Homo sapiens: one gene and its partner. The main gene of each other region encodes a partner of the protein of the gene in region 2 in a complex. Links are inferred from orthologs where the notes say so. Each region holds a gene or a part of one and is shown on either strand. Other genes may lie near its edges. The genes, in order: NR0B2 and NR5A1.

Region 1 (3,908 bases), on a different chromosome or scaffold from region 2:
GAGATTTAAAAACATGAAAGGAACTTTATAAATTTAAGGATTAAGACTAATAATCAAATGAAAGAGGTGTGCCTGTTTGTCCACTGGTGCTCAGCTCCACAGAGGAAAGGGGCAGAAAAATCCTCCTACCGTATGCCAGAAACCACTTGGAATTTAACAACCAGGACCTCATTTTGTCCCCATGGCAGCCCTACAGCCAGGCATTATTGTCCCAGGGAGGCTTATCGAGGTTCAAGGATCAACCCAAGTCACATAACCAAAAAGTGATGGATTCTGGAGCAGATGCCAGGGCTAGTGATGCCAGAGCCTCTCTCTCCCCATCCAGGGCACCAGGCTGCCCAACAGCATGCAGCAGAAGGCTTGCCACACTGGACTGGCCAAGGTCCAGGAACATGACACAACCAAGGGCCTCTCCACCTTCTCTCATCCCCTGTGCTCCACCATCTGAGAAAGATGCCCGGGACAGAGGAGCCACGTGGCAGCAGAGCAACACTTCTGCCCAGATCACAAGTGGGCAACGTCTGCAAAGCAGGCAGCAGCAAGGTGGGGGCAGCTAGCCACAAGCTCTGAGAATCTCAGGCTCTGGCTGTGCAATTGGGCCAGTGGGTCCAGGGAAACAAACAAGGACTTTGGAGTCAGGCAAGATCTGGGCTTTGTCTTCCTGGTGGGATGACCTTGGGCAAGTCACTTTAGCTTTTTTAGTCTCATAAAGTAAGAATCTAGCCTTAGGAAGAGGCTGCCAATATTAGAGTGGGAAGTGCCTGACACATAATAAGTGCTTAGAGAATGGCAACCATATATATACATATATATATATATATATGTATGTATGTATGTGTATATATATATACACATATACATATAAATATACATATACATATACATATACATATACATATACATATATATTTTTTTGAGACAGGATCTTGCTCTGTTGCCCAGGCTGGAGAGCAGTGGCATGATCTCAGCTCACTGTAACCTCTGCCTCCCAGTTTCGAGTGATTCTTTTGCCTTAGCCTCTAGAGTAGCTGGGACTACAGGCACATGCCACCATGCCCGGCTAATTTTTGTATTTTTAGTAGAGACGGGATTTTGCCATGTTGGCCAGGCTGGTCTTGAACTCCTGACCTCAAATGATCCCCCTTCCTCAGCCTCCCAAAGTGCTGGGATTACAGGCATGAGCCACCGTGCCCGGCTGGCAACTATCTTTTATTATAATTCTGTGAGTTCTTCTCAGCAGACCTGGCCTTTCAGGAGTGGTAGGAATCAGGCTGGGGATAAGGATTCTGAAGGACCTTATTCCTGCAGGGGGCCCAGAACTGGAATCAGAGGAGGAGGCCTCCTAGATTGGACAGTGGGCAAAGTCCTCCCAGCCCCCAGGGTCCTGGCTCCCTTCCCTGTAGCCTGCTTCTGGCTGACAACAGAAGCAGGGCCCCAAGGTTAGGCAAACAAGCTAGTGATAAGGCACTTCCAGGTTGGGCCTTGCATTCAAGGCCCACCCAGCTCTGGGGCTGGCTTCCTGGCTTAGCAAAAGCCCTAGTCTTTTGTGCACACAAGAGCGGGCACCAATGGGGACACCTGCTGATTGTGCACCTGGGGCCTTGGTGCCCTGGTACAGCCTGAGTTAATGACCTTGTTTATCCACTTGAGTCATCTGATAAGGGGCAGCTGAGTGAGCGGCAGGTGGCCCTGTGCCCTGCACCGGCCACTTCATTGACTGAGGTGATATCAGTGCCACGTGGGGTTCCCAATGCCCCCTCCCCCACCACTTCCCCACCATTCCTGCCAGGGGCAATGTCTGTGTGTTTTTTTCAATGAACATGACTTCTGGAGTCAAGGTTGTTGGGCCATTCCCCCCGTTCCACTCACTGGGAATATAAATAGCACCCACAGCGCAGAACACAGAGCCAGAGAGCTGGAAGTGAGAGCAGATCCCTAACCATGAGCACCAGCCAACCAGGGGCCTGCCCATGCCAGGGAGCTGCAAGCCGCCCCGCCATTCTCTACGCACTTCTGAGCTCCAGCCTCAAGGCTGTCCCCCGACCCCGTAGCCGCTGCCTATGTAGGCAGCACCGGCCCGTCCAGCTATGTGCACCTCATCGCACCTGCCGGGAGGCCTTGGATGTTCTGGCCAAGACAGTGGCCTTCCTCAGGAACCTGCCATCCTTCTGGCAGCTGCCTCCCCAGGACCAGCGGCGGCTGCTGCAGGGTTGCTGGGGCCCCCTCTTCCTGCTTGGGTTGGCCCAAGATGCTGTGACCTTTGAGGTGGCTGAGGCCCCGGTGCCCAGCATACTCAAGAAGATTCTGCTGGAGGAGCCCAGCAGCAGTGGAGGCAGTGGCCAACTGCCAGACAGACCCCAGCCCTCCCTGGCTGCGGTGCAGTGGCTTCAATGCTGTCTGGAGTCCTTCTGGAGCCTGGAGCTTAGCCCCAAGGAATATGCCTGCCTGAAAGGGACCATCCTCTTCAACCCCGGTGAGCTCCCAGACACTCCTGGGTGGGGGGCAAGGCTGAAGCAGGGGCCAGCCAGGGAAGGTAGCTTCTAAGGGTTTGATATCTGTTATCTCATTGGGTCCTCATTTTCTTTTTATTTTTCTGAGACAGAGTCTCACTCTGTCACCCAGTCTGGAGTGCAGTGGTGCGATCTTGGCTCACTGCAACCTCTGCCTCCTGGGTTCAAGCAATTTTCTCTGCCTCAGCCTCCCGAGTAGCTGGGATTACAGATGGCCGCCACCACTCCCGGCTAATTTTTGTACTTTTTAGTAGAGATGGGCTTTCACCATGTTGATCAAGCTGGTCTTGAACTCCTAACCCCTCAGGTGATCCACCCACCTTGGCCTCCCAAAGTGCTGGGATTACAGGCGTGAGCCACCGTGCTTGGCCAGTCCTCATTTTCATCAAATAGCCATCTCACAGAAGAGGCACAGAGAAGCTAAGTGACTAGCTAAAGGTAACACAGCCAGGTAGGGACAGACCAGGATGGCAACTCAGGTCTATTCACTCCAGAGACTGGCCCTTGCCACTCTGCCTGAGAAATTTGCTCTGACCTTTACAGAAGGCTGTGGGGAGGTGGGGTGGGCAGACACAGCTGTGTCTCAGTCACATCCTCAAAGGAAGGCTGCATGGTGAAGCTCTAGAGCTAAAACTCCTCTGTGGGTTCAGAAAGATCACATAGAAGAGATGACTGAAAGGGGCGTAGGGAGGACAGGAAAGGAGTCTTTATGGAATTCGGCCAGGAGAGCGGCAGATGGAGACAGTGCTGTTTGTAATCTGGAGAGCATCTGAGATGAGAGTTCCCCAGGAGTCCCTTGTGGCACGCATAAATCGTAGTAATTAATTGTAATAATAGTAGCAAATACTCATATCACACTTACCATATGTTAGGCCCTATTCTAAGGGTTTTACATATACTAGTTCATTTAAATCTCATAAAAGCCTAGGAGACAGGTCCTATTAATATTATTATTCCCGTTTTACAGATAAAGAAACTGAAGCCCAGAGATTAAGTGACTTGCCCAAGGTCACCCAGCTAATAAGTGACAGTGCTGGGATTCATACCCAGGAAGCCTAATTCTTAACCATTACTCCACACTGCCTCTTCATAAATGGATGGATGAATACATTGAAAATTGATAAATAAATTACCTCCTCTAAAGGAGGAGGTAGTAGTGGGACCTCAAAGGCCGAGCAAAGGAGGCAGAGGGGTGTCTCTGATGGCCCAGATCTTGGGCCAGTCTTGTCCTTTGGTGGCTGGGAGTAGGGTGCTCACCAGCCCTCTTCTCCCTCTCTGCCCACAGATGTGCCAGGCCTCCAAGCCGCCTCCCACATTGGGCACCTGCAGCAGGAGGCTCACTGGGTGCTGTGTGAAGTCCTGGAACCCTGGTGCCCAGCAGCCCAAGGCCGCCTGACC
Region 2 (3,908 bases):
AGCGTGGAAGTGGGTAAGGGCGAGTGGCGACCGTGGCCGAGGCTCGGATTCACGGGTGGAAGCCAGATTCTCCCATGGGGCCCACCACATCTCCTCACTCGAGCCTGTAGCAGCTCTCTCCCCGTCTCGGGTCTTCAGTTGCCGCATCTGTGAAGTGGGTAGATGACCGCTCTTCCTCGCTAAGGGTGGGTCGTGAGGATGAACCCAAGCAGTAGGGGCAAAGCACGCGTGTGGCCTGGCGGAAGCGCTCAGTGGCGCCCCTCTGGGGAGATCTGGGGCGAACCCCTTCTGCTCGCTAGCCTCAGGTCGCTGGGCTGGAAATGGGACTCGTGGAAATCCCATTTTACAAATGTCCGAGGCCTGGGGGGACCCGAAGCCTCTACGGGCGCAGGAGCTGGGAGAGGAGCCCGGAGGCAGGGCCCCGCTGCTCCCCTCGGAGCTCTCACGGGGGGGTGGGGCGAGGAAGAAAGCGCTGGGCGGTCTTGGGGACAAAGGGGTTCCCGGGCCTATGGGCCAAGCAGTTGCTCTGGGCTAGGGACCATCCGCGGGGCCACTGTTTTTCAGCTGGAGAAACGGACCCGAAAGGAAGGGGCCTGCTTGCATCCTGCCTCCGCCCCCGCTGGCACCTGGGGTCAGAGAGAGTTTGGGGACCATGAGGCCAAAAAGCTGCGATCTTCAAGCAGGAAAATACCGCAATTTTGCATTGACAGCGGCGCAACCCACCAAAAGGCTCCATCTGGGCTCCCGCCCGCCTGGAGGCCTCGGGCTTCGGTTGGAGCTGGGCCTGGGGCCTGCAAGTTGTGGCCAGAGAACCCCCCGCGCAGACCGCACTCAGCTGGCTCACCCACAGAAGGAGCAGAACCCGCAGACTAGCTGTGCAAGCTCGGGCAAGTCACTTCTCCTCTCTGAAACGAGAGCCTCAGTTTTCTCCGAGCATAAAGTGGAACATGTTGGCTTTACAGATGGGGTACTGCGGTTTCCATGCAAGAATCTTGGATGAGGAGGGAAGAAAGAGCCAGAGACCCTGTTAATCGTACCCCCCGCACCCCCAAACCCCTGAGAAACAAGAGCATCTGCCCGAGCTGGAGGTGGGGGTCACTGCCGCCTCTGAACAGCTCCCCACCACAATGGAGCCCTCAGACAGTGACTGCAGGAGGGAAGGGGGTTGGTGGATGATGGGCTGGGGTGCCCCAGTTGGCTGTTCTAAGGTAGAGCTCACCCGAGGTCTCCTGGAAACCTGGAGCTGGACACACAGGCCCCAGCCGCCGGGGTTGGGTGGGGGCTGGGCTCAGGCCCTTCTCCCTCTATCTCCAATCCCCTCTCCCCAAGGGTTTCTACTCTCACCGGCTGGAAGCCCATGGCTCCTCTGCACTCCAGGCTCCGAGGCACCCACCCCCACAGGTTCCAGGTTCCAGCCCACCGCCTGGGGAGTTCCAGCCCCTCATCCACCCACCCAGGGAGGGAAGCCTAGACCTGGCCCGGCCGCAGAACCCAGGCTGACAGATGGATGCCGGAGACAGACACACGGATACACAGCAAGACTCAGAGAGAGCCACAGAGACAACACAGAAACTCAGGTGGGGGACAGAGCCCCAAGACAGGCCCAGAGCCCTCCAGACACACTCACAGACCTCTAGGCTCAGACCCACACAGCCTGGTGGATGCCTGGCCAGAGACAGCGGGACACCAGCGGACCTCCATGGGGCTTGTGGTCACAGGCCTGGCTCCTCCCATCGGCAGCCCAGGGAAGAAGAGGGGGTAGCATGGTGGGAGGGTGAGTCTGGGAGACCCCTGGCACCTTCCCTGCCCAGAGCAGGGGGCACCGGTCACTAAGTGGAGCAGGCAGTGGCCGGCCCAGGCTGCAGGGAGGCACTGCAGAAGGAGGCTGGCCATTAGAGGCCTGGGCCAAGGCCCTCACTTACGAAGCGGAAGCAGCGCTCTCACACCGGATGAGGGTGGCAGTGGGCACCAGGGGTCCAGGGGGAGGCTCCGGCAGCCCAGGTGGGACGGTGGCGACTGTGGGTGCGCAGAAACCCCCTCACACCACGGCGGGCGGCAGCCGGACAGCAGGCTGGCCCTGTCCGTCCGTCCTCCTCCTCCTCCCCGCCCTGGTGGGGGGGCCACCGGAGGCCCAATTGGTCTCTGCCCCCACGTGACTCTGCAGGCCTCTCGCCTTCTTTGTTGGTGTTTCTCTTCATTTACGTCTATTTTTTCTTCTTCTCCTAAAAGAAAAAAAATACCCCTATCTATCTGGGGGCTGAGGGTGGGGGCGGAGGCCAAGGCACTGCAGAGGCCTTGGCCAGCTGGCTGTTCCAGGCCCGCTGTGGGAGCCCAGAGGCAGGGACCCCACAGAGGCGGGTAGGCAGCCCCGCTTGTTAGAAACCGGGTGGGAGTGGGGCTTGATTTATGGGCTGCTCCCCCACCCGGCCTGCCGCCTGCTCCTCTCTCCTTGTGAATGGCTACCTCCCTGGGGCCTGGCCTGGCATGGTCTGGCCCAGCCCGGACATTGGAGTAGAGTCAGGACAGGCCAGTGCGGAGGCAAGGCCATGGCGACTTGACTAGGCGGCCTGCTGCTTCCACCTCTTTTTCCTCTTCCATCAGGTGGAAGAAGAGGGGGGCCGGAAGGGGAGCAGGTGAGCGGCCTGGACACCTGGTGCGTGCATGCCACGGTGGCCTCTGAATGTCCTCATCTGCTGTGGGCTGCTGATGTTCCCAGTCGATGGCTGGAAAAACTGAGGCTGGGCTGAGACTGCCTCTGAGGCCAAGTGGTGGCTATAGTGGCCCCAGGTTGAACCAAGTATGAAGCTAGTCCAGGATAGGACAGGGTAGCAGGAAGGGGCCCTTATCTAGAAGGCTAGGCCTCCCTAGACAACCTGGGACGTCCCCATCCAATCTCTGGGCCCAGATGGGCTCTGAAATATCCTGTTCCTGTAGGGCCCGGGTTGCAGGGTGTTGTGCCGCTCCCACGGTGACTGGATCTTTTGTGTGTTCCTCTGTTTGTCTCACATTTACTGAGCGCACACTTAGGGGTCAGGCACTGTTCCAGGCACCAGGGATCCCATAGGAAAGAGAAGAAAAGTCTCTGTCCTCAGAGGATTTACCTCCGTGCCTTTCATCTTGGGAGAGCAGGGAGGGGCACAGGGTGACTATGGGGCAGTCACTGTTGAGAACCACCCCTCCTCCCACATATCCCTTCATTGGAGGAAATAAATAAATCACACCCAACACCTCACTTATCTGGAACAAGAGGGACTTTTCTGGATAAGTGAAGTGAAGCCAACTCTCCCTATATATATTTTTTCATGGAAGGCCACTGAAAAAGTAGAAACGCCAACTATATTTAAAACCTATGTGTTTTCCAGCCAGTCACTGTGGCTCATGCCTGTAATCCCAGCACTTTGGGAGGCCAAGGTGGGCGGATCACCTGAGGTCAAGAAGTTCAAGACAAGCCTGGCCAACATGGCAAAACGCCATCTCTACTAAAAAATAGAAAAATTCACCTGGTGTGGTGGCTTGTGCCTGTAGTCCCAGCTACTTGGGAAGCTGAGGCAGGAGGATCGCTTGAACCTGGGAGGCAGAGGTTGCAGTGAGCCAAGATTGTGCTACTGCAGTCCAGCCTGGGCGACAGAGTGAGACTCCGTCTCAAATAAAATAAAATAAAATAAAATAAAATAAAATAAAATAAAATAAAACCTAGTGTGTGTTTTCCTCATTATGCCACTTAAAATTGTGTGTGAACATACAACAATAATACTGATAGACTGTAGTCCCGGCTACTCGGGAGGCTGAGGCAGGAGGATGGTTTGAACCCAGGAGTTGGAGCTGCAGTGAGCTATGATTGTGCCACTGCACTCTAGCCCGGGCAATAGGGTTTTAATAATTAATAATCATTAATTCAATAATAATAA

The links.
Region 1: the proteins of NR5A1 (region 2) and NR0B2 are in contact, whole or in part, in a crystal structure (PDB 1YMT), measured with the Mus musculus proteins. The link is inferred for Homo sapiens from one-to-one orthologs. Residues at the interface, in NP_001303616.1 of Mus musculus: Ile275, Val278, Arg282, Phe287, Val292, Gln295, Met296, Leu299, Gln300, Asn450, Leu452, Glu455, Met456; in NP_035980.1 of Mus musculus: Thr19, Ile20, Leu21, Tyr22, Leu24, Leu25, Ser26.

The regions. Positions count from the first base shown.
Region 1 is NC_000001.11:26,911,974-26,915,881, reverse strand, and holds the start of NR0B2 (nuclear receptor subfamily 0 group B member 2), read left to right. Parts: upstream 1-1,906; 5' UTR 1,907-1,941; coding exon 1,942-2,473; intron 2,474-3,477; coding exon of another isoform or gene 3,478-3,569; exon of another isoform or gene 3,570-3,795; coding exon 3,796-3,908. UniProt on the Homo sapiens protein: Transcriptional regulator that acts as a negative regulator of receptor-dependent signaling pathways. Specifically inhibits transactivation of the nuclear receptor with which it interacts.
Region 2 is NC_000009.12:124,505,327-124,509,234, forward strand, and holds the start of NR5A1 (steroidogenic factor 1), read right to left. Parts: upstream 2,074-3,908; 5' UTR 1,923-2,073; intron 1-1,922. UniProt on the Homo sapiens protein: Transcriptional activator. Essential for sexual differentiation and formation of the primary steroidogenic tissues. Binds to the Ad4 site found in the promoter region of steroidogenic P450 genes such as CYP11A, CYP11B and CYP21B.